Homo sapiens: one gene and its partners. The protein of the gene in region 4 interacts with the protein of the main gene of each other region in a pairwise test. Each region holds a gene or a part of one and is shown on either strand. Other genes may lie near its edges. The genes, in order: GOLM1, MTIF3, LMNA and TMEM109.

The links.
Region 1: the proteins of TMEM109 (region 4) and GOLM1 interact in binary tests that used the Homo sapiens proteins (3 or more experiments, as listed by UniProt).
Region 2: the proteins of TMEM109 (region 4) and MTIF3 interact in binary tests that used the Homo sapiens proteins (3 or more experiments, as listed by UniProt).
Region 3: the proteins of TMEM109 (region 4) and LMNA interact in a two-hybrid assay, tested with the Homo sapiens proteins (one large-scale study listed by BioGRID).

What each region holds. Positions count from the first base shown.
Region 1 is NC_000009.12:86,024,134-86,032,131, forward strand, and holds the end of GOLM1 (Golgi membrane protein 1), read right to left. Parts: intron 3,761-7,998; coding exon 3,684-3,760; 3' UTR 2,013-3,683; downstream 1-2,012.
Region 2 is NC_000013.11:27,432,983-27,440,191, forward strand, and holds the end of MTIF3 (translation initiation factor IF-3, mitochondrial), read right to left. Parts: coding exon 7,007-7,209; intron 4,292-7,006; coding exon 4,134-4,291; intron 2,912-4,133; coding exon 2,693-2,911; 3' UTR 2,661-2,692; downstream 1-2,660. Other genes in the region: GTF3A (transcription factor IIIA), read left to right, coding at 1,157-1,237, 1,823-2,052, 2,151-2,210, 2,451-2,615. UniProt on the Homo sapiens protein: IF-3 binds to the 28S ribosomal subunit and shifts the equilibrium between 55S ribosomes and their 39S and 28S subunits in favor of the free subunits, thus enhancing the availability of 28S subunits on which protein synthesis initiation begins.
Region 3 is NC_000001.11:156,128,211-156,131,710, forward strand, and holds part of LMNA (lamin), read left to right. Parts: intron 1-1,616; exon of another isoform or gene 1,617-1,639; coding exon of another isoform or gene 1,640-1,698; intron 1,699-2,406; coding exon 2,407-2,563; intron 2,564-3,500.
Region 4 is NC_000011.10:60,915,156-60,922,144, reverse strand, and holds part of TMEM109 (voltage-gated monoatomic cation channel TMEM109 precursor), read right to left. Parts: intron 4,530-6,989; exon of another isoform or gene 2,992-4,529; intron 2,460-2,991; 5' UTR 2,452-2,459; coding exon 2,215-2,451; intron 1,260-2,214; coding exon 1,157-1,259; intron 372-1,156; coding exon 1-371. UniProt on the Homo sapiens protein: Functions as a voltage-gated monoatomic cation channel permeable to both potassium and calcium. Plays a role in the cellular response to DNA damage.

The DNA of each region.
Region 1 (7,998 bases), on a different chromosome or scaffold from region 4:
AATACAGAAAAGCAACAGGTATTGAAAATGCAGTGAAGAATATGCTGTATGCTGGGTAGGAGAACTGCCCCACGTGAAACTTTAGGTGACAAATCCCCATCGCATCTATTCAGGAGGCACTGCTGGGAAAAGGGTCCCAGACAGAATGTGCACAGGCTTGGAGGGGAGAGGGTAGCAGCCTGGCCGAAGTATAGAGCAGGAAAAGGATGGCGGAGATGAGAGGCAAGGAGAAGCCGATACCCAAAACCCTGGGAGGCCACAGGTTAAAGATTTTGGACTTTATTCTGATATTGGTAGATTCTACTGAAGGCTTGTATGCAGGGACATGATGGGATCAAGTCAAATCTGCTTGCCTGAGAATGGTTGAAAAGGGAGGCAGGGAAGCCAGTCACGTGAGAGAAAATGTTGGTCTTAACAAAGGTAGTGGCAGAGCAGGTGGAAGAAAGTGGATGAAATCAAATGTTTTCAGAGGTACAGCTAATGGGACATGGTGAATGAGAGTTTCTGCCAAAATCAAGGATGATTTTTCAGAAATTTTTTTGGCTTTGGCAACTAGACGATGGTGGTGCCACTTGTGTAGATATCTAGGCAAGGTAGGAGACCAGGTTTGGGATAAAGATTGCTTTAGACATTGAGATATCTTTGGGACATCCTGGTGAAGATGGCAGGTAGTTTGGTCTCAAACTGGGAGGTGCCATCTGGGGTGGAGATGAACTGAGGACTCAGTAACTATAGTCACTGTAATTTTCTGGGGGTTGCCATTGCTCAGGGAGCTCCTAGAGTAAGGGACTGAGATAGGTCCCAAGGAATAGACTTGGGAGGGCCAGGGAATGGGGAGGCCACTGAGGTGGTGGGACAGGCTGCAGGGAAGAATACCTCAAAATCATACGAGGCCACTCTTTGACAAGTGTGCCTGTTTCACCGTTTTGTTTGCACAAGACTCTAAGACAGTATACTGCCTTAAATAAAGTGCACCCTGTTTGGAAAAGTTCAGGAGAGGTGGGTGTTTTCCTTGTTCCTCTTTGGCTATGCTCTGGGCACTGGAAAAAGCCTGCAAAGGAGACTTATCAGGAAAATAAGCAGAATGAGGGCCATATGCCGCTCAGAGGCCATTAAGAGAAGGACTGAAAAGAGCCCATTGAACTTGGCAAGTAAAGATTGCTGGCGACTGGGGCGAGCTCTTTCTTGAAGGGGTGGGGCAGAAGCTGGAAAGTCAGTTGAGGTGTAGACCATGCAGTGAGGAAAGAGCGACTCAACTGGGCTTGAAGAACTGACTTCCCCATATTCATACTTGCCCCACTCTATTTGTGGAGTGGCTGGTATGATCTTAAAAGATCATAAAATGCAAGCATGGTCACTTGACAACTCTACTTAAAATCCACTGTTCTCTAATGAATGACCTAGTCTTTACCCAGAATGCCAGTTTGACCCCTTCTGCCTCTCCTACTTCGTTTCTGCCCTCTCCATTTGGCCCCTCAGGCTGCAGCCACATTGGCCCCCTGAGACCACCAAGCCTTTAGTATCAAATTTTGGAGACTCACATGAAGTTATTATGCAACAGCTCTCTGAGTCTTTACACTGATCACGAAATCAGGAGATTGAGACCATCCTGGCTAACAAAGTGAAACCCCATTTCTACTAAAAATACAAAAAATTAGCCGGGCATGGTGACATGCATCTGTAGTCCCAGCTACTTGGGAGGCTAGGACTACAGATGCGTGTCACCAGAGGTGACTGTTCTATTTTGTTGGAACAGCCCACAGCCCTCTCCATTGTTGGCTGAATCTGTCGTGATCCCTAGGGCAGCCTGGAGAAAGCATGCAGAGTGCACACGTGGTGAGCACAAAGCTTTCGGGGTACTGTGGGTTGAAGACGTCCTGACAGCCCATCTCATTCCACAGAAGGTTTAAGGCAAACTGCCATCCTTAGTCCACAGTTTGAGGGTGGATTCTTTAAGGATCTAATAGAGGATGAAGGGGAAAAGCAAAAAAACAGAGCTGTGACAAGTTTTATAAGTTGAACAGAACATTTTATTTCTCAGCAATTCTATGCGTACAAATTAAACATGAGATGAATAGAGACTTTATTGAGAAAGCAAGAGAAAATTCCTATCAACCCCAAGGAGGACTCAAAGTGAGGCTGGAAGAGGACTTAGAAGAGTATGAAAGTACTCTAAGATTTTATCTAAGTTGCCTTTTCTGGGTGGGAAAGTTTAACCTTAGTGACTAAGGACATCACATATGAAGAATGTTTAAGTTGGAGGTGGCAACGTGAATTGCAAACAGGGCCTGCTTCAGTGACTGTGTGCCTGTAGTCCCAGCTACTCGGGAGTCTGTGTGAGGCCAGGGGTGCCAGCGCACCAGCTAGATGCTCTGTAACTTCTAGGCCCCATTTTCCCCTCTGAAAATAAGAGGGTTGGATCAAACGATCTCTGGGGCCTTAGCATCTCAAATCCTGTGGATCCTCCTACTTACCCCTTAGAGAGCCTTACTGGGAAGTCAGTCATTAATGATGTGGCCAGTTATTTGCAAGTGGTAAGAGCCTATTTACCATAAATAATACTAAGAACCAACTCAAGTCAAACCTTAATGCCATTGTTATTGTGAATTAGGATTAAGTAGTAATTTTCAAAATTCACATTAACTTGATTTTAAAATCAGTTTTGTGAGTCATTTACCACAAGCTAAATGTGTACACTATGATAAAAACAACCATTGTATTCCTGTTTTTCTAAACAGTCCTAATTTCTAACACTGTATATATCCTTCGACATCAATGAACTTTGTTTTCTTTTACTCCAGTAATAAAGTAGGCACAGATCTGTCCACAACAAACTTGCCCTCTCATGCCTTGCCTCTCACCATGCTCTGCTCCAGGTCAGCCCCCTTTTGGCCTGTTTGTTTTGTCAAAAACCTAATCTGCTTCTTGCTTTTCTTGGTAATATATATTTAGGGAAGATGTTGCTTTGCCCACACACGAAGCAAAGTAAATAAAGACCACAAATGTTCAAATTCTAAGCCACTTAATAGCGTTTTGTACATTAAAAATGACAAGGGTTATTATACAAGTAGCCTTTTAAAAAATTCTCACACAGAACAGCTTTGTATTTAGACTTAAAGCTGTTGCTACTTTGCTAGTGACGTTTGTGTTAACAGTCAGTGCTCTAGGCCATTGATTGATTGATTGTCAGAATCAGAAGTGACTACACAAGAGCATTAGCCAGACTTTTCAGTGAGAACAGGTAACAGGCTGGCACCAGCACTTGGTACAGCACGTGGACAGGACGACGGAACCCAGAGTTCTCTGTCTCTCCTTCACAGCAGATGGACTCTTCTATAGGTGGCTGTTAATTTACACAAAGTTATATTCCAGAATCAGGAAGCCCCGCTGTCGCCAACACTTGAAGGAGAACTATGTTCCAGTTTTGGTGTTGAACTTCTCACGAAATACCTACTACCAAAAATTGTGACACCTTATTAGACACTTCCAAAGTACCCCCCAAAAGCTGTTTAAAAGACCATTCCATTTTTTCCTACACAAAGTGCATACTAAAATTTCACAATAATCATCTTCAGATGTACATTTTATTTAGTACATTTCACAGTTTTCAGTATTCAGTCCCTCATGAACATTTTATAGTCATCTCTTCGGCCCTGTTGTGAAATATGTGATTCCAGTTCAATTCAGAGTGTATGATTCCGCTTTTCACGCTGATCAAGTAAATTTATGGTGTCTCTTTTCTGATCTTCAACATTAAAAACTAAAAAGGAAAAACACATAATATTCTATAGAGTATTAAATGAGATACTAGCCCTAGGCAGGTCCCATTTTCTTATCAACTTCTAGAAACTGTCATAAAGAGGACTGCATCTCCCACAGCAACACTGTAATTGGGAGTTGTATTCCTCATCAAGGACAAGATGGCAACGGTGATATGGGAGGGGGACAGGGAAGTGCTGGGTAGAGAAGGGCAGGGTCACTGGCAAGGGCTCCACCCTCAGGCTTGTGCCCATGGACCTAATGAGAACAAGGACTCCTGTCTTCTTGCCCAAATGTTGCATTTTCCAAGACCACTCTGGCCTGCCATGCCACCCATTCTGTGCCTATAAAAACCCTGAGACCCCAGCGGGCACACACACAAGCGGCTGGACGTCAAGAGGAACACACTGGCAGAAGAACACATCGAAAGACGCTGGCAGGCCATTGATGGTGGAACGATTCGGACGCCAAGGGAAATTCGGCCAAGGACAGTAGGAGATCCCGGCTGCTGAGCAGCCAGACTCCAGAGGAAGACTACCTTCCCATGCTATCCCCCTTCTGGCTCCCCAGCCATCTGCTGAGAGCTACTTCCACCACTCAATAAATCTTGCATTCATTCTCCAAGCCCACATGATCTGATTTTTTCAGTACACTAGGGCAAGAACCTGGGATACAGAAAGCCCTCTGTCCTTGCGATAAGGCAGAGGGTCTAATTGAACTGATTAACACAAGCTGCCTGTGGACAGCTAAGCTGAAAGAACGCACTGCAACACACACCCAGTGGGGCTCCAGGAGCTGTAACCACTCAACCCTAGATGCTGCCGCGGGGTTGAAACCCATCCTCCCCACAACCTGTCCGTCCGCATGCTTCCCCTAGGGGTTTGAGCTGTGGGGCACTGAAGAAGAAAGCCATACCCCCATTGCATGCCCTGTGAAGGGGATAAGGGAACTTTTTTTTTTTTTTTTTTTTTTTTGAGACGGAGTCTGGCTCTATCACCCAGGCTGGAGTGCAGTCGTGCGATCTCAGCTCACTGCAAGCTCCACCTCCGGGGTTCACGCCATTCTCCCGCCTAAGCTTCCCGAGTAGCTGGGACTACAGGCGCCCGCCACCACGCCCGGCTGATTTCTTTTTGTTGTTGTAGTTTTAGTAGAGGCGGGTTTTCACCCTGTTAGCCAGGATGATCTCGATCTCCTGACCTCGTGATCCGCCCGCCTTGGCCTCCCAAAGTGCTGGGATTACAAGCGTGAGCAACCACGCCCAGCTGGAACTCCTCCCCTTTCAAAGTGTCCAAATGGATGACCAACAATGTGCCATGAAACAAAGCTGAAGCACCTAAAGATTCCATACTTGTTTGTAACAGTGACATAATGCCCCATATGCCATAGAAAATGGACAGTATCAAGTGCACTCATGACATTTTAAATATAATCACCACGCTCCTGTGCGGCGTGACTCCCTTGCTACTGCACTTCTAATGGCACACGCTGCCTCCTGAGAGCTGTCTGCAGCTTCAGACAGCTCTTGTGACTCCAAAGCTCTCCCTTTACAGAGCTGATGTCTGTATGTAGCTTCTACCATCTGATCTTACTCTATCCTTTTAACACACAGAAAACATAAAAAGGCACATCACAAATAAAACCTAAAACCACGGTCTTGATTTATAACTATGGCACATTAAATGGTAGTTTAATGACCATTAAATACCTGCCATATTAAATTAACGGTATCTGTTAAAGGCTCTTAATAAAGTTGGAGCTAATGCTTTTTTCTTCTAATTTCCCTGGAGCAAGTAAGGTCTCACTGTTTCAATGACACAATCTTAAAATAATGTTGAAGCTGATGTTGACATTTCTTCAGCTTCTTCAAAGAGCTGACAAGGCACTCATTTTCTTTACCTTACCTACTTACTTTGTTTAAAACCTTGCACAAGGTCAAGTCCTTAGGACACCTGAGTGTAGGGAATGAGAGATCCAAAAAGGCTTCACCGCAAAGCCCATCATTTAGTAGGAAACTAGGCCCAATTTAAAAGGTGGTTAGAGCCGGGGTGGTGGCTCACACCTGTAATCCCAACACTTTGGGAGGCTGAGGCAGGCAGATCACCTGAGGTCAGGATTTCGAGACCAGCCTAGTGGACATGGTGAAACTCTGTCTGTACTGAAAATACAAAATTAGCTGGGCATGGTGGCATGAGCCTGTAATCCCAGCTCCCAGCTACTCAGGAGGCTGAGGCAGGAGAATCACTTAAACCCAGGAGGCGGAGACTGCTGTGAGCCAGGATTGTGCCATTGCACTCCAGCCTGGGCAAGAAGAGTGAGACTCTGTCTCAAAAAAAAAAAAAAAAAAAAAAAAGAATAGAAGTAAGACAGTGACCAGACCGTGAAACATGCTCAAGAACATAAATGAGTGGAGTCAATGACAACAGAGAGTTTGTATTTGCTTCAAAGTCTGGCTGCTAGTGTATTTTGCCATTTGCCTTTTTAAAAAATTGCCTAAATGAAGACAGCTGAAAATTCAAATTAGGACTTGGATTCTAAAAATTCCAAACAACTCTGCCAATTGAAACAACTGACATCCTGGAGAAATATAAAAGATAATTTTTAGGGGGACATTGTTGAAAAATCAGACAAGCACAGATTGAGGGACTTTCAACCAAATAACTGAGCCACTACCCTTCAAAAAAGACCAACAACATAAATGATAAACTGCTCCACGATAAAGAACACTAAAGAGGTCTGACAATAAATGCAGTGTATAATCCTGAACCCAGAAAAAAAGACATGAATTGGACACTCACTAAATTTCAACAAAGTCTACAGATTAGATAATAGCATTGTATAAACATTAATTTCCTTATTTTGGTAATTTTACTGTGGTTATATAAGATGTTAACATTTGGGGAACCTGGGTGAAGGGTATACAGAAATTTTTTGCTTTTTAAAGAAGTCTAGATTATTTCAAAATGAAAAGGTAAAAAAAATGTAAGTATTAAAACATTAAATGAATAATGCATTGCCCAGATGGTAATAAAAGAAGGTATTGTTAGCCAGACGTGGTGGCTTACGCCACCCAGCACTTTGGGAGGCCAAGGCAGGCGGATCATGAGGTCAGGAGATGGAGACCATCCTGGCCAATATGGTGAAACCCCGTCTCTAATAAAAATACAAATATTAGCTGGACGTGGTGGCGTGCGCCTCTAATCTCAGCTGCTCGGGAGGCTGAAGCAGGAGAATCGCTTGAACCCGGGAGGCAGAGGTTGCAGTGAGCCGAGATCGCACTACTGCACTCCAGCCTGGGCAACAGAGTGAGACTCCATCTGAGGAAGAAAAAAAAAAAGGGCATCGGCAGGATCAGCAAGGCCGAAACTGAAGTGAAGTAGTTGTTACAACGACTCCTGCTGCCCTGAGGATTTCTGCTGAATTCTGAAGTTTATGATGATATTTTAAAAGCAGTTACCCTCAGAGAAGATGGGGAAGTAATTCATAGTCATGAAAACTGTTAAAAAGGAAAGAAATCAAGCATTTATCCTATCTACCTTATACAAACAATACCACTGAGGTTTTTTTTTTTTTTTTTTTTTTTTTCCCCGAGACGGAGTTTCACTCTTCTTGCCCAGGCTGGAGTGCAATGTCACAATCTCGGCTCACTGCAACCTCTGCCTCCCGAGTTCACGCGATTCTCCTGTCTCAGCCTCCCAAGTAGCTGGGATTACAGGCATGTGCCACCACGCCTGGCTAATTTTCTTGTATTTAGTAGAGACGGGGTTTCACCATGTTAGTTAGGCTGGTCTCAAACTCCTGACCTCAGGTGATCCACCATCCTCGGCCTCCCAAAGTGCTGGGTTACAGGTGTTAGCCACCACGCCCAGCTGAAGTGTCTATTTCTAAGAACATTCCAATTAACAAATAACATAAAAATGAATTGATACAGGCATTGACCATCAACTGGCATCACAAAAAGAAAGACGCCAGGTTGCAGTCAGCCAAGATCGCGCCACTGCACTTCAGCAAGGGTGACAGAGCGAGACTCCATCTCAAAAAAAAAAAAAAAAAAAAAAAAAGACGCCAGACATGACGTGCCTCCCGATGAAAGAACCAAAGAACACACCACCACTCACCTTACCGAGGGCTTGAGCCAGGACCTGAGTCTCATCAAGTCTCTGGGTATAGCTGCCACTCTACAGAAAACAGAGACCAGGCGAACTCACTCAACTCCCCCATGACTCTATAATCAGCAGTATT
Region 2 (7,209 bases), on a different chromosome or scaffold from region 4:
CGTATCATTGCTGTTCACATGTAATGTGTTGTTTGTTCACAACAAGCGCCTGGTTACACATTACACTGACGAATGTGCTGATGCTCCAGCCATGGCTTTGATGCTTCTGTCATTTTTAACCTCTTCTATTAATATTTACTGCCTGTGCCATTCTTTTCCTTGTTGGCCATTCACAAGGCTTGGATAATCGTGTGACATTTTGAGAGCCATCAGATGTTACGTTTCTCAAAAAAAAAAAAAAAAGACTTGATTATATTAACTATTTGAATCTATGATCTGTTTCCTTGAGGGATTTTTGCTAATCTGTATTTCAATTTCCCAGGTCCTAGAATTTATGATTTTTTTTTTTTTAAGAGGTTAGTAGCTAACAGTGAGAGGCAGCCTCATTGTTTTTAGTTTCTAGTTGGGTGGAACTCAGCCCTAGTGTTGTATACTTATTAATCCCATTTTAGTGCTTTGCACATATCCATTGTTATTCAGTGTTTTTCTCTGGGTCCTTCCAGTTTATTTTCTTCCTTAGCTGTACTCTTTTAAAAAAAAAAAACAAAAAAAAACTTTTTTTTTTTTTTTTGTGATAAAGTTAAAATATAATGTACCCTACTTTTTTTGTGCAGTATGACACTTACAAGATGGCCAGACTAGAGGAAGCCAGAGGTGGGCATGGTAACACTACTGAAAAGTTGGTGGTGTGCCATGGACAAGGGACCGACTGCAGAGTATGTTTGCTGAGGAAAATAGAGGCGAGGATAGAGCAGGCAGGGGAAGGGAAATAAGACATGGAGATAGGAGGTTAAAGCAGTTGGGAGTCCATACACAGCCTACCCAACTTCCTGAGAACTCTTAGAGAGGAAAAGGCATCCTTAGGCATCCTTCCTGTGAAGTTTGCCTATTCCGTGATCACGCTGAGAAGATGGGAACTCTGAAGTTTGCTTCACAGGAAGGTAAAATCCTTAAAGGGAGGCACCTTGCTGTGCCACTGTTCAGTTTTACTATAACATCAATCTTTTTTTAGTTTTTATTCCCACCTCAAGAGGCTGAGTTGAATACTATTAGGCGGGGAATGGAAAATTATATAGGCACCTAAGTTTCCTTTCTAGTTATGGTCAGTGTTTACACTGAGTATTCATGACAGACAATGCACCAATTTTTTTAATAGGCTATGTATGTCAAAAAGGATGTTCCTTTGTGGCAAAAACATGGACGGAACTTCTGAAACATGTGAGAGAAACCCATAAAGGTAAGGCAGGCATGAATGGCAGGCATGGTGTAAATGTTTGTCCCCACAGAACTGATTTAGTGCTTTTCAAGAGTGAAATGCTGTGTGCTTTAAAGTAAAAGGGTTTCTCTATGATATTTTGTGAAGTGCTGGGTATGATGTTGTTGGAAAGGTGAGCAGAGCTGTGCCAGGTCTCTGAGCCACCCCACCATGCACAATTAGCATGCTGAAGGCGGTGGCAGGTCTGTAGTGAAGAATTTCGGGAGGCACTGCTGTTCTGTGGGACCGCCTGGGAAACAGTACCCTGCATACTGGGGGACAAGGAAGGACACTGGTCTGCTTCATTTTCTGTACCTCCCCACAGTCACCTTCCTGAGAGCCCTGCCTCTTGGCAAGTGAACAATGACTGTGTGGCATTTAAGAACTTCAGAGAATTGAGACAAACTTCCTAGGTGATAAAAACTGGGGTTGTTTCCTTGGGAATTTCTGATTTGTATATAGTGATCAGGTTTCAGGCACTGAATGTTACTTATATATTAGGTATTAATTTTTTCTAAATGGTAATATCTGGGGAAATTTGTGAAATTTGTCTGTCTGTCCCACCAGAGGAAATACTATGTGAAGTATGCCGGAAAACATTTAAACGCAAAGATTACCTTAAGCAACACATGAAAACTCATGCCCCAGAAAGGGATGTATGTCGCTGTCCAAGAGAAGGCTGTGGAAGAACCTATACAACTGTGTTTAATCTCCAAAGCCATATCCTCTCCTTCCATGAGGAAAGCCGCCCTTTTGTGTGTGAACATGCTGGCTGTGGCAAAACATTTGCAATGAAAGTAAGCACTCACCCTCATACTCATGGTCCTATAGTCTATGCTTTCACAACATGGTTTTCATATTAATATTTCATTAATAACTTTCTCTTTCATTGTAGCAAAGTCTCACTAGGCATGCTGTTGTACATGATCCTGACAAGAAGAAAATGAAGCTCAAAGTAAGTTGAAACTACTTAGGCAAGCTTAGTTTTCAAGTGGAAATTGTTTAAGGCCAGAAGGAGTCTGTTTGGAATTCTTTTCACCTGCTTTACTGTTTGAGTCTGCACTACTGTTGAAGACTTTACTTCCTCATAAAGCAATGTTGTACACTATATCTGCTGGTACATATGACTATCGTAAAATTAACTCAGACAGTTTTGATTTTGAATTCTAATCGTGTGTCTTCCTTATTCCCAAAGGTCAAAAAATCTCGTGAAAAACGGAGTTTGGCCTCTCATCTCAGTGGATATATCCCTCCCAAAAGGAAACAAGGGCAAGGCTTATCTTTGTGTCAAAACGGAGAGTCACCCAACTGTGTGGAAGACAAGATGCTCTCGACAGTTGCAGTACTTACCCTTGGCTAAGAACTGCACTGCTTTGTTTAAAGGACTGCAGACCAAGGAGCGAGCTTTCTCTCAGAGCATGCTTTTCTTTATTAAAATTACTGATGCAGAACATTTGATTCCTTATCATTTCCATGGTCTTTGTTCAAAGTGTCTCTTTCCTGGGTCTCTTGAGTTTCTTTATATGCCTTCTCCTCATTTTTGCTGAAAGCACGAAGAACACACATTAAAGCTTTTCCTCCTTGAACAGCTTGTGGCCTAGATGAGAATGTAGCTATTCCAGGCATAGTCTGGAGTATTTGATGAAATATCTCCTCCTAAAAAAGGGAAACAGCCAAAGATTAATTTAAAATCAGAGGCTTTGGTGCTTTCTAATGTTCTGCTTGAACATTCACAAAAACTGGCACCCTTGAATTGCTGCTGTCGGTTAAGTGATTAGCTAATCAGTTCATACGTATCTGGTTAAGTTGACTGAAATCTGTACAATAACACCATGTAACTAAACTGACATGCTGAATGCTTCCTAATTTTAAATCTCCACTTCGTCATGGCACGAAGAGGCTACGTTTGGCTCAGCATTACCCTCTCCCACAAACAGAAAGCACTGGGTTTGGGCATTGGCAAAATACCTCCTCATCCCCAAGGTGTCAGCCGAGCAGTTCTCAGCACTCTCTATTGCCCCTAACAGAGTCTCTCTCAGTGACTGAAACAAATGGATACCTGGGCTCAAGAAATTCTGCATCAGCTGGGTTGCGACCTATGCTTAAGTGACTCTACTGTGGAGCTGGATTACTAAGGATACCCTTAGTGGATGATAAAGTTATCTAACTTTTAAAAAAAAAAAGCAAAATAGGTATTCCATAAACTTATGGGATTGGAAACTACACACTTTCTAGAAGACAGTCTACGTAATTAATGCCCCTATAAGTACAAAGAAGAAACAAAAAATCTATAAAGTTTCTAATTTTCCTGTTTAAGGGTTATTCTACAATTTATAAAACAATAGTATATTGCTTTTAAGGAATAATGTGTTCATATGGCAAAATACGCTGTAATGGAAACTATATCTACAGTATGCTTAGTTTTGAAAAGCAAACTAGAAAGCTGTTAACATCACTGGGTGGAAGAATTACCAGTCACTTTGTCTTTATATTTCAGATTTTCTACAATTTTTTTTTTTTTTTTTTTTTTTTGAGACGGAGTCTTGCTCTGTCACCCAGGCTGGAGTGCAGTGGCGCGATCTCGGCTCACTGCAAGCTCCGCCTCCCGGGTTCACGCCATTCTCCTGCCTCAGCTTCCCCAGTAGCTGGGACTACAGGTGCCCGCCACCACGCCTGGCTAATTTTTTGTATTTTTAGTAGAGACGGGGTTTCACCATGTTAGCCAGGTTGGTCTCAATCTCCTGATCTCGTGATCCGCCCACCTTGGCCTCCCAAAATGCTGGGATTACAGGCGTGAGCCACCGCGCCTGGCCTACAATTGTATTTTTAGATCAGAAGACCCAAAGCACAAGCAGTGGCTTGTACCTTCTTTACTTACCATTTCATTTTCTGACACGTCTACATTTTTTCCTTTCTTTATGGTAATCTGGACTAGGTGTTTTTTCTTAATCCACTGCTGAATCTGTTTAGTCTTTGTGTCCAAATCATGTTGTCCAATATTTGAAGACAAAATCAGTTCCTTTCTCAGGGTTGGTCCTGGTTTGAAACAGATAGGGTGCAAGGACTACTGACTAGTCCACTGTGAACCCTGAACTTCCCAACATGCCCATCATAAAATCCTAGGTTGCCACCTGACAATCTTCTCATCTGGCTTTCAGTTTCACAGACCAGTAAATGTCTTTTCAAATGGGGAAGATACACATAAAGGTACCAATTTTTTACCTGCCCTGGAAGGGTACTTAAAATCTGAAATGCTTCCATTTATTGTTAACCATCGTTTGTTGAAAGAACACCAAAAGATAGTCGTTTAAAGGATCAAGTTTGGCTTCATGGTGCACTTAACATCCTTATCTATCAGCTGTGGGTTGGCATCTGGGAGTGCACTACCCACTCCTTTTGAGATGCTCTCCTTGCTATAAGGGGTCAGCCAGACTGTTGGACAGGTAAGGGTCCCTACATCCTGTGTTCATGCCCTCTGTCTCCAGAAATCCTGCCTACTGGAAAATTATAGAGAAGGAACCGGCCACTCAATAAAGGTGTTGGGACAATTGAGAAGTTTATAGATGACAAAAAGTTAGGTCTCCCCAGGTATACTAATGTTCTACAGGTGAAAAATACAACTTTAAAACAAACAGAAGAAAAGACAGAATGGTTTGTGATCTCAGGATAGGGGATGGAACTCATTAAGAAAAAAAGGCAAAATGAAAAATCTAACTGGGATACGGTTTTTTCCATCATACACAACAGAGAACCCTATAAATCGGAGAAAAACCATCTACGTAGAAAAATAAAGGAATATAAACACGCAATTCACAGAAGAAAAAAGTGAAATACACATTAATTTCTCACCATTAAAATGACAAATGAGGGAGGAGGTAGAGAAACTGCATACACTGCTGCTGAGCAGTTTGATCCATTTAGGTTCATAGACCCTAGAGTATGCACCAGGGTTCATCATAAAGATTGGGGGCCAGGTGTGCTGGCTCACGCCTATAATCCCAGCACTTTGGGAGGCTGAAGCAGGCAGATCGTTGGAGCTCAGGAGTTCAAGACCTGAGCAACATAGCGAGACCCCATCTCTACAAAAAAAAAAAAAAAAAAAAAAGGCCAGGCATGGTGGTGTGCACCTGTGGTCCCAGCTGTGTGGGAGGCAGAGGTGGGAGGATTGCTGGATCCCAGGAGATGGAGGCTGCAGTGAGCCGAAATCACACCACAGCACTCCAGCCTGGGCAACAGAGCAAGACTGTTTTTTTTTTTTTTTTTTTTTTTTTTAAACACAGGGTCTCGCTCTGTCACCCAGGCTGAAGTGCAGTGGCATGATCATGGTTCTTCACTGCAGCCTTTGCCTCCTAGGCTCAAGTGATCCTCCCACCTCAGCCTCCCAAGTAGCTGGGATCACAGGTTTGCACCACTACACCTTGCTAATTTTAAAATTTTTTGTAGAGATGGGGTTTTGCTATATTGCCCAGGCTGGTATTGAATTCCTGAGCTCAAGCCATCCACCTGCCTTGGCCTCCCAAAGTGCTGGGATTACAGACGTGAGCCACCACGCCCAGTGACCTTTTTTTTTTTAAGTGACATAGTTTGACGTCATTATCCTCCCTGGTTGGTCTCTTCTGAATATTGTTTTCCAGTCAACATCCTTGTTAAATGTGGCATTACAAAACTGAGCCGCAGATAACATGTGGTTTTCTGAAGGCACACAACCTCACGATGCAGTGCTGGGAGCAGTCATCTGATGCCTGTCCCCGTGCGCCATCCATTGAACTTTCATAATGATTGGCACTTTTTAGGAACTATGAAAAACAAACATCTTTGCTTAATATCCAATTCCTGACTTCTGTGAGGCTTAAATGACAAGTGCCTCGTCAAGTGACTGGTTGTATATCTAAGAGTGTTGCTACTGATATTGCAACACAATGCTTTGGCATGGGAGATGCTCTGTGAATCACTTCAGAGTCGAAAAGGTGCTTCCAGGCTAGGCGCAGTGGATCACGCCTGTAATCCCAGCACTTTGGGAGGCCGAGGAGGGCAGATCACTTAAGGCCAGGAGTTCAAGACCAGCCTGGCCAACATGGTGAAACCCCCTCTCTATTAAAAATACAAAAATTAGCCGGGCGTGGTGGCGGGCGCCTGTAATCCCAGCCACTGGGGAGGCTAAGGCAGGAGAATCGCTTGAGCCTGGGAGGCGAAGGTTGCAGTGAGCACACATCGCACCACTGCACTCCAGCCTGGGCGGCAGGCAGAGACTCATCTCAAAAAAATAAAAAGGTGCTTCCAGATAATTAACCAAACACCTCCACTTTAGAGTTGAAGAAGGGGAAGAAAAACAAAAGGAGGGAGGTTAAATGAGTGGCCCGGCAGAGGGCAGGGAACTTGAATGTACCCCTCCTAATCTCACTCTGTTTCACCCCATCGGCTACTCAGCTTGCTGCGGCATTGGGAGAAGGCCACAGGACAGGGGAAAGAGTTCTCTTCACTTTGGTTTGTTTGCCTGGTTTCTCCCACATTTTACACAGGTTTAAAGGGAAGAGATAATGGGCAGGGTATTGTGGAAAAACAGTGAAAAAAAGGGAACAGGAGTAAGTGCAGGATAAAGGAGGAAAGACAGACACTGGGAATGGTGGTTGAATCATGAATTTTCTAGTTTCTCATTTCCCTCTTGTCACAGGCACCTTGACAAATGCTAGAATTTAAACTGCTGATTTGTAGCTCTTAAAGGATTCAGGGAGCCAACAGCAAAATACCTACCAGTTTTGGGGTTCGCCTTCTCCATCTCCCTCAGCCTCTGCCGCTCCTGGAGGATCTGCAATCCTGTCATGAGCTGATACTCTGCAGGTTCTGTGCTGGTGTTCCTTTGAACCAGTCGCAGGTCTCGCTCATCCATAAGTCTAATCACATTTGCTCGGTGCATGTTTCCCAAATCATTGCCCTTCTCATCAAATAAGTGAATA
Region 3 (3,500 bases), on a different chromosome or scaffold from region 4:
AAGTGTTTGCTATTATATTATTATTATCACTGCCACCACCGCTTTTGCAAGCAGCAGAAGGTGAAGAGGTTAGACTGAAGAAAAAACTTCTGTGCTCATCAGCCCATAAGCTCGCAGAGCACAGGGATCATGCATCTATGTTTTCCTCAGTCAGTGTCTGCCAGGCACTGGCAAGGAAAGGCTGTTACCAGGGGGAACTCCAGGAATTCCTCCTGGCACCTAAGGAGGCTGGGGAGACAGGACTAGGGAAAAGGTGCCCTTGAGACACCTTCTGAAATCATCCCATTGCCTTCCAGCTTCTTTCAGCTCAGGCTGGCTGGTCAGGGAAACGCTTTGTGCCATAGTGTCTGCCCTCTTCCTCCTCCTGGCTTCTCCATTCTCTCTGGAACTTGTGGCTTAGGAAAGCAGTGAGGTGGAGGAGGAGGAACCCTAGATCAGCAGCTAGAATTGACTGGAATGCTGCTGCTGGCTTTCGGTAATTGACACTGGGCCATTCACCTTCCTCCTTTGCACCTCAGTTTCCTCATCTATAAAAGGGAGAGGGTTGAGCTGAATCAACTCTAAGCTCCTTCTAGTTCTCTAAATTCTGAGAGCCTCCTAGTACAGCCAGCAGCAGCCATTAGCCTTCAGGGTAGAGAGGCCTCTTCTGGGAAGCCCCAGCCAGCCTGGGGGTCAGCCCAAGGAGCTCGGAATCTAAGTTGCCCCAGTTGCTTCACTTTACCAGCGGTTTTTCTTCATTTTCCCTCCTCCCCCTGCAGCTGCTTCAGCTTCGGAAAAGTTCTGAAGTCATGGAAAGTTGGGGCTGTGCTCCCAGCCAGGGGCTAGGCCGGATGGCAGCCAAAACCTGAGCTGGGTTTTGACTTTATTTTTAGCTTTTCTGACTGAGACAGAGGAGGGAATACATTCTCCGGTTCTGGAAGGGGCTCTTTTTTGCAGGAGACAGACACTTACATTAAACAACTTGTTCTGAGGTGTGGCCAGAGGCCTGGACTGAGCAAGTGTGCAGGCTGGGGGAGCTTCCTCTGGCTTCTCATGTCCTTCCCCTGCCCCTCTGAGTGTCACTCTATCCTCCTCCCTGCCTGGTGGGGGGAGGTGGGGGTGACTCCTTTTTTGGACTCTCCTAAGCAGAACACTGCCTGGGTCTCGTCCTCCAGAGCTTCTGCAAATCTAGCCTTCCCTATCCCTCTTCACAGTGAATTGCTGGGCCTCTTGGAGTTTAGGACTTTTGTGGTAGAAGAAAAATGTTGGCAGGGCTGCTTTTCTCCTTTCCAGGATAGATTTTTCCTTCTGCCCACGCTTGGTTTTCCTTTTTTCCATCTGCTGTGGTGGGCTCATGCTTAAGCACTGATGAGTTACAGATGGCAGCTGGAACCAGGTCCTCTGGATCTTTCCCTCCGCTCCCTGGGTCTGCTGCTTTCTCTCACCCTATATTTGTGAAGCAATTGTAACATCTAGAAAGTTCTTGGGTTCTCTGGAGGTTTTTAAGAAAATAGGACCTTTCTATTTCTCCAGTCCACTAGCAAAAATAATCAGGGGCCCAGAAAAGGTGAGGGAGGTGGCAGAGGCAGCGCTGTTCGACTGGTTATAGCTAAAGCTTTACCCACTTTGAGGAGCAGGGAGGCTTAAAGCTGGGGCCCAGATGGACCTGGAGGCCTGGGATCCACATCTGGAACCAGATGCTGAGGCTATGGTAGATGGGTAGGGCTCAGCCTTCTCCCAGGGCACGGATGAGGCAGGAGGGAGGGAGGCAGGGACCCCTCTGTTCAGTGCAGATCAGGGCACCCAGACTGGGTCCTGAGAAAGGAAAGGGTCAATATTGTGCCTGGTCATCCTTGTCTGAGGTCCCTCTGAGCTCTAACCAGACTTTCCTTCCCCACAGTCCCACATGTGTAAAAGGGACTAGGAGAGGTGACCAGTACCTTTGGGGCTCAGATCGAGAAGTGCTAGGGACATGTGGGCCATGAGCTTAGTTGTCAGGCTCCTCAGAGGGAGGGAAGCTTGGCCAAAGGGAAGTGAGTAGAGTCCAGGGAGAAGGCTAAGTAAGGCCCTGTGTGGGAAGGGGCAGGAGACAAAGGTACCCCTGTCTCTTTGGGAAAGAATGGGAGGAGAGAGAGGGAAAAGCATTCATATCACGGGGTAGAGCTCTGCCCTTGGCCCCAGGCACGTTCCTGAGCCCTGAGTCATGGGAAGGGTGGAGAAGCAGGAAGGGGGTTTTCAAGGACCTTGGGGAGGTGGGAGCCCAGCCCCAGAGGCAAGCAGATGCAAACCAACCTAATGCAAGGATGCCCTCTCCTGGTAATTGCAGGCATAGCAGCGCCAGCCCCCATGGCTGACCTCCTGGGAGCCTGGCACTGTCTAGGCACACAGACTCCTTCTCTTAAATCTACTCTCCCCTCTCTTCTTTAGCAATACCAAGAAGGAGGGTGACCTGATAGCTGCTCAGGCTCGGCTGAAGGACCTGGAGGCTCTGCTGAACTCCAAGGAGGCCGCACTGAGCACTGCTCTCAGTGAGAAGCGCACGCTGGAGGGCGAGCTGCATGATCTGCGGGGCCAGGTGGCCAAGGTGAGGCCACCCTGCAGGGCCCACCCATGGCCCCACCTAACACATGTACACTCACTCTTCTACCTAGGCCCTCCCCCATGTGGTGCCTGGTCTGACCTGTCACCTGATTTCAGAGCCATTCACCTGTCCTAGAGTCATTTTACCCACTGAGGTCACATCTTATCCTAATTTGGCTGCCAATGGGATCTACCACAGTGAATTTAAAATAATCCAGGAGGCCGGGCATGGTGGTTCACGCCTGTAATCCCAGCACTTTAGGAGGCCGAGGTGGGCCGATCACGAGGTCAGGAGATCGAGATCATCCTGACTAACATGGTGAAACCCCGTCTCTACTAAAAATACAAAAAATTAGCCTGGCATGGTGGCGGGCGCCTGTAGTCCCAACTACTCGGGAGGCTGAGGCAGGAGAATGGCGTGAGCCTGCGAGGCAGAGCTTGCAGTGAGCTGAGATCATGCCACTGCACTCCAGCCTGGGCAACAGAGTGAGACTCCGTCTCAAAAAAATAATAATAATAATAATAAAAATAATCCAGGCCATGTGTGGTGGCTCATGCCTGTAATCCCAGCATTTTGGGAGGCCAAGGAGGCAGGATTGCTTGAGTCCAGGAGTTTGAGACCAGCCTGGGCAACACAGACCCCATCTCTAGAAAATAAAAATTTAAAGAAATTAGCTGGGCATGGTGGTGTGCACCTATAGTCCCAGCTACTTGGGAGGCTGAGGCAGGAGGATGGCTTGAACCTGAGAGGTCGAGGATACAGTGAGCTGTGATTGCACCACTGCACTTCAGCCTGGGTGACAGAGGGAAACCCTGTCTCTACATAAATAAATACATAAAATAAAATAATCCACAAGCCATTTCTACTTAACTTTGCAATGAACTGTACCTGACCCTAGATCCCTCCCAGTTTGGCCCTCCGGTATACAAGGGCCTCCTAT
Region 4 (6,989 bases):
GGCCCCCTTGGCCGCTCGCCTCTGGCGCCAGCGCAGCTCCTCCACCTGGCGTTCCAGCCCTCGCACCTTGGCCTCGAGTTGGGCCCCAGAGGCTCGGGAGCCAGTGAGCCGGCTCAGCAGGGCGTAGAGGATCAGCAAGGCCAGGAGTAGCAGGGCCCGGGTGGAAGGGTCAGGCACCGACCTCATCAGGGCCACGAAGCCGGCCAGGAAGATGACAAGCTTCAGGCCCCACAGGATCCGCCCCAGCAAGGCCAAGACCAAGCCGAGGAGCAGAGACAGCAGCCAGTAGACGACCAGGGCCCCTGCTCCCCACAGCAGGAAGGTCTGGACCTGGCCAGGGCTGAGCTTCAGGCCCTGGGCGAGGTAATCACCTGGAAGCCAAGAGAGTCACAGAGTCAGCCAACCTGGAGAAGTGGTGAGGGGAGAGCGGGGCAAGAGCTAAAAGGGTGGGAGGTGCTAGGCACATTGCAAAGGAATAAGCCGTTCTCGCAGACTCAGAGTGATATGGGTTGGAATCTCAGCTCTGTTTCTTGCTGGCTGTGAGGCCTGGAGTAGATTACTTGCTTCTGTTGAGCTGCAGTTTCATTTACTAAACGGGAACAATTCTACTGCCTCCCTGTACTGTGGCTGGCAATTAAATGAGATACTACAGCTCAGCACGATGCCTGATAGGAAGTGAACAACTGGCACGTGGTGGCGGAAGTTCTTTTTTAGGGGGTCTGGGTGGGACAGGGTTTTGCTCCATCGCCGAGGCTGGAGTGCAGTGACGTGATCCCGGCTCACTGCAACCTCTACCTCCTGGGCTCAAGCGATCCTCCCACCTCAGCTCCCAAGTAGCTGGGACAACAGACACACGCCACCATGCTTGGCTAATTTTTTATAGAGACGAGGTCTCATTATATTGCCCAGGCTGGTCTCAAACTTCTGGCCTCAAGTGACCCTCCTGCCTTGACCTCCCAAAGTGCTGGGATTACAGGCGGGAGCCACCACACCTGGCCATGGTAGTTCTTGGCTTGCTCTTTGGCCATGTCTCTGCAGAATCCTGGGAAGGGTTAAGCAGCTTGGGGAAAAGGCTAGACCCTGACAAAGATGAACTCCCACAAGTAGGAAAGTACAGGCAAAGCTCTGGCTGACTACCCAGCACTCGAACACTCACCAGCTAGTCCCAAGGCATTCAGCAGCTGTGCGGCGATCCCAGACAGAGCAAAGAAGGCCACAGAAATGGCTGATGAGATGGCCCACAACACTTGGGACGAAGACTGTGGAAAGAGCACGGAGCGAGATGAGTTCATAATGAACAACGGTCCTCGCCTTCACGCCTGATCACCACTGTCCAGGCAAGAACTGCAGGAATGTCTCAGACCTGTTTCTCACCCAGTGGTGACAGGCCTGGGTCAGAGGGTAGGGGCCTTGGGCCTGGCTGAGGGGTCCCTTCCACATCCACCTTCTAGTCTACAGGGATGGCCAACAGGCTGTCTCTCCTTCCTGAACTGGAAACTAGGGCATCTGGGACATAATTTAACTGCTTTGCTGGGATACTTTGGAGGGAGTAGTAGGTGTACTTGTGTGTGAATGACGGAGACAATCAAATACTTTTAGTAGTCACCCTATAAAACTGGAGGCCTGCTAGCTGTCCAGGGAGTCATGAAGGTGCGTGGAGAACATCTGTAAAGGGATAGGATGTTCCAGTGAAAAAGGAGTCTATCAGCTATACTATATTATGGATTTAATAAATGATTGTCTCAGCCCTTCAGTCCAGCCTATCAAAAGTATGTGATACCATGCTTGGGATGCCACCAGGTAAAAAAAGATAACCCTGCCTTAGGCTCCCAATAAGCTCAACCCACTTCTGCAGGTGAAGGAATGGATTCAGGACTTGATATTTTGCCATTTCGAGATTCTAGGTCAGATTTAGACCAAAGTGAGACTCTACAGTCACCCAGTAACATGGGCTTATAAAGATGGCTCATTTCCCAGCCTTTCTGGCAAGGAAAGGGCAGGAGCCAGGAAAGGATAGGGGTGGAGCTAAAAGGCCCTAGGACAGCAATCAAATAACGAGGAATTCAAAGACAAGTGCTGTGTGGCTTCTTTTTGTGGAATTTGGGGCTCTCTGCACCAGAGAGGATGTGGAACTAAGATGAGGTGGCCATTACCAACCTTTCTTCTTTTATTTTTCCTTAATGTGTGTAGTCACACAGGGACTACCTTCCTTACCTCTGACACCAGGTGCATGGTCTCTGGCCCAATCCAGGCATCCAGTGTCCCTCGCACAGATCGACCTATCTGGGTCAAGACATCAACTGGGGCTTCTCTCTTCTGTTGGCCTGGTGGTGCAAAGTCTCGACGGGACTGGGCCAATGCTGAGTGGAGGAGGATAAGGGCCACTAGGACCATCAGAATGGCTTTGAACACATGCTTTCCCCATGGTGAACTGATGCTGGAGGCTGCCATGACTGGGTCTGCCAGGAGAGAAGCACAGTGAGCTGAGTGCCATGGTAGACACACTCACCCTCTCAGCTCTGATTATCCCAACATCCTTCTCCACCCCTACCCCAAGCAAGCACCAAACTAACCCTGGAAAGAAAGTGCTGTTAGCTGGGAGAGGAAGGACTGGGACTTCCAACTGAAGCTGGGCACAACCATCTGACTCACAGGTTCCTCTTTCACATTCTTTACCACTTGCATATTAATTAACCAGCAAGTATTATTCAACACTTTAGAGTTGGCGAGAAGATCTCTCTAAGGTTTGTGCCAGTTCTAAAAATCTGAAGGCCTGTCCCTGTATCTTAGGTGCTATAGGCATAAAAGTATTATAAGACTCTATAAAGGCTCTGTCCCAAGGAGCTTATAATCTACTTAAGATACAGCTGGTATAAAAAACAACTTAAAAATAGCACACAAGTAGGATTACTGCCATATAATGGTATAAAGAAAAGTGCTCAGTTATGTGCTCAAACAAGAATAACTGCACATATGTCATCTTCTCTGCAGGACCATCATGTGAGGTGGCTTTTATCCTCCTCGCCCCTACTGGTACAGACGAGAAGAAACTGTGACTCAGAAGTTAAGCATTTTCCCATGGTCACTGGGCTACACAGAAAGGCCAGGATTTGAACCCAAGCTTCTGCTTCCACCCATCTTCATTAGGAGTCAAGTTATACTGTGGGTCTCAACCATGGCTGCTCACTGGAATCACCTGGAAGCTTCCCAAGTACTGATGTCTGTGTCCCCAGCCCAGAGGTTCTGATATCATTGTCTGGGTGTGGCCTAGCCTTGGATCTGCAAAAGCTCCCTAGGCAGTTCCACTGCATGAAGTTGAGAACCACTGATACAGAGTGACCTCACCTCCCCACCCCCAATGGAGGTGCTATGGTTTGAAGAGCAAAACTCATGTTGAAATTTAACTGTTCTTGCACCTCCTGCAGAGCCTGGGAGCTCCCAGTCCAGCCAAGGATGTTGGATCTCATGGTCCTAAGTACTTCTTTGACACCCCATTCCCCTCAGTAAAATAGTTTGACCCCTTCTCCACCAAAAAAAAAAAAAAAAGAAAGAAATTTAATTGCCATGATGATGGTATTAAAAGGTGGGACCTTTAAGAGGTGATTAGGTTATGAGGGTTCAGCCCTCATGAATGGATTAATGCCGTTATCTTGGGAGTGGATTAGTTATCCCAGGAATGCAGCTCCTGATAAAAAGGATGACTTTGGCCTGATTTCCTGTCTCTGTCTCATGTGCTGGGTTCTGCCTTCTGCCATAGGATGACCCTTGCCAGATGCCAGCGCCATGCCCTTAGACTTCCCAGCCTCTGGAACTGTGACCCTAATGAATTTCTGTTCATTATAAACTACGCAGGCAGTGGCATTCTGTTATAGGAAGCAGAAAATGGACGAGGACAGTGAGCAAGGGTATAATGAACAACCTTTAAAGAAATACTATTAATAAAAAGCTAACATTCAGCTAGGTCTTGCCATGCACCACCGCGCTCATTTAACTGTCACAACAGCCCATCGGGTAGGTGTTGCTATTATCCCCCATTTTACTGAAGTAATTGAGGCAGGTTAAGTATTAACTGGGGAAATCAGCATTTGAATGTAGGTACTTCTGACATTGGACCCCTCATACACAACAACTCTGCTGTATTGTCTCCAACTAAGTCTCAGAAGTGATTTAGAAAGTCATACAGGCCAGGCACAGTGGCTCATTCCTGTAATCCCAACACTTTGGGAGGCTGAGGTGGGAGGATTGCTTGAGCCCAGGAGTTTGGGAGCAGCCTGGGCAACATAGGAGACCCTGTCTCTACAAAATAAATATAAATAAATAAATTAGTCAGGTGTGGTGGTGCGTGCCTGTACTCCCAGCTATTTGGGAGGCTGAGGGGGGAGGATCACTTGAGCCCAGGAGGTCACGGCTGCAGTGAGCTATGATCATGCCACTGTATCCCATCCTGGGCAAGAGAGCAAGACGCTTAAAAAAAAAAGTCACACAACAGATTATTCATGAGTTAAAATAAACTTGGCATCTACCAATCATCTCAGTGAATTACTGGTGAAAATTACCTAACAACTTTGTGCTTTGTGCTCTGGTCTTGTAACACAATGCCACAGACAAGTTAAGACCCAACAAGTGCCAACTCATTGAAGCAGGTAAGGATCAGCCAAGAAAAAGTACACAAGTTCAACTTCTACTTGCCACTGTGCTTGAGAAATGTCAGACAGCGCCAGCAAATTCCCTGTTCCCCTCCAGGTTCAGAAATGAACCTGTAGCTCCAGGAGTTTTCATGATTCAGACCTGATGATCAGAGGCTAAGCCATGCCCCTGAGGTAGGAGCAGTCAGGTTTTTGAACTTTTTGCAGTTACACAGGCACTCAGGGAGTTGACAATAAATCCAGAGCCATGAGGGATGGAGAAGGAAGAGAATGATGTCCTAGTCTTGCTTAGGGGGAAGGAGGAGAGTCTAGGAAAGGGTTCTAAAAATACTACATTTAGGGTACTTTTTGGTCCAGAAACAGCTGCTCTAAGCCCTTCCAGAAGCCTGGAGGGTCAAGCAAGGCTGAAAAACATGCAATTCATGTAGAAGGCCCTCAGGCTGGGAAAGCCTTCTACTGTCTTTGGCACAAATCAAGAACCAGATGGTTCCTGCCTGCCAGTGGTCGCAGATGAGGAAAGCACAGGTGAGTTCCTGAGCTATCTGGGTCATAACCATGTTGGGGACTTAAAAGAGCAGGGTTGCTATCTTGGGTTGGATCCTTTATCCAAGGACCTCCACCAGGAGGGATCAAATATCGTTTCCTCAGCCCTAGGAGGTCAGGGTGCCATAAGCTGCTCCTCCCACAGCAGCCTGCCTTGTTCTGTGCCAGCCCCAACTCTCCAGTGGCTGTCTGCCCCAGTTAAGGGGAGCTAGGAGACCTTGAAATAAGCCCTCTGCAGTGAGGCTGGCATCGTTATGCAGACTGATGTTCTGAAGTGCACCAGATACCAAACCTAACAGGATTGTGTAGTGTATCCTTTGGAGATAATGAGTGCAGAGATTGGCTGGCTGGTCTGCTTTTTCAAATTGTTTTCTTTAATAGGATTCCTTCTCATTTTTTTCCAGGTGAATCTCAGGCAGTATGGACTCACTGCTATTAGGCCTCCTCACTTTGGCCTAATCAAATAGTTTTACTAAAGGCATGGAAACAGTCTCAGCCTCTGAGAGGAGGAAGCATGTCTTAAAACTTCTTCACCTTCTGCAATGCCTGGCCTCAGACAAATAATAGGCACTCAATTAACAACTCATAATAATACAAATGTTATACATATCTATACATATACATATGTTATAATAATTTTTGTGTGGTGCTTTATAATTCACAGAGTGCTTATTGTTTCATCACTTCATTTAACTCTAACAACAATCTTTTAAGGTATTATTACCCTCTTCATCTTACTCAGAAAAGTATGGCTTAGAGAGGTTGAGTGACTTATCCAAGATCACACAGCAGAGCTGGGACTTGACTCCAGTACCCAGGATCTCAATCTTGCCTTTTTGCTTGTCCCATACCCGCATGCTGCCTTGATAGTGGACATAGTCCCTGCCCTCATGGAGCTGAAGTTCACCAACAAGCTCAAAGTGGAAGGACATCCAGACTCCTCCGAGGGAACACATACCAGGAGACCATCTGCCTTCTGGGCTTACAGGCCATGGTTTTGTACCAAGAGGTATGAGAGGACAGCAAAAGGTGGGAGACAAAACCTGCCACTTCTGTTCGGCAGCTGCAATATGGCTCAGGTGGGTCTGGAGAGCCCAGCCTGGCTGGGGAAACAGCTTTACTTATTGTGTTAGTGAGAAGGCGCCACTGCTTATGTTTAGCTGTGGTTTGCTACAAGGGTAGGATGGGGCATTTCGCGCCCCCCCCTCCCAATCAAGGCTCCTTCCTCCTCTTCTCTTTCCTTTTGTTAGTTTCATTTCATGCTATGAATCACCAGGTGGCAGGAGGGGCGGCAAAAAGTGCCCTCTACCGGCTCTGACTGTCCCGCCGCTGCTCATAGCTGCCCCTAAGGAGCGGCGGTTCTCAACTTTGGCTGCCCATCGGAACTGCCTGTGCAGCCTGTTAAACAAGGACGTCTGCCCCACCCAGGGCTACTCACTCAGACTCTTCCAGAGAGGGACTCAGCCCTTTGTTTTGCAAAGCTCCTCAGGAATTTCGGATGCATAGCCAGCAGCTCAGGGAAAAGTCTAAGCAAAGCTTCAAAAGTGCAGCAGTGTACAAAGGACCCCTGACTTCCGTCCCAGGCTCAAGTGTGCCACGGACTAGAAGCTACTACCTTACGCCTGTTACTTAACCTGCCTGAGTTGCAGTCTCCTCAAACGTAAAAGGGAGTGAACCCAGGTGAAGAGTTGCTGTAAGGAGTTAAGATATTTCTGCAGCAAGCGCTTTGTAAACTAAACATCTATAGAAATGTTGCAGCACACACATTACCACTGACTATATATCGTAGCATAATTTAGC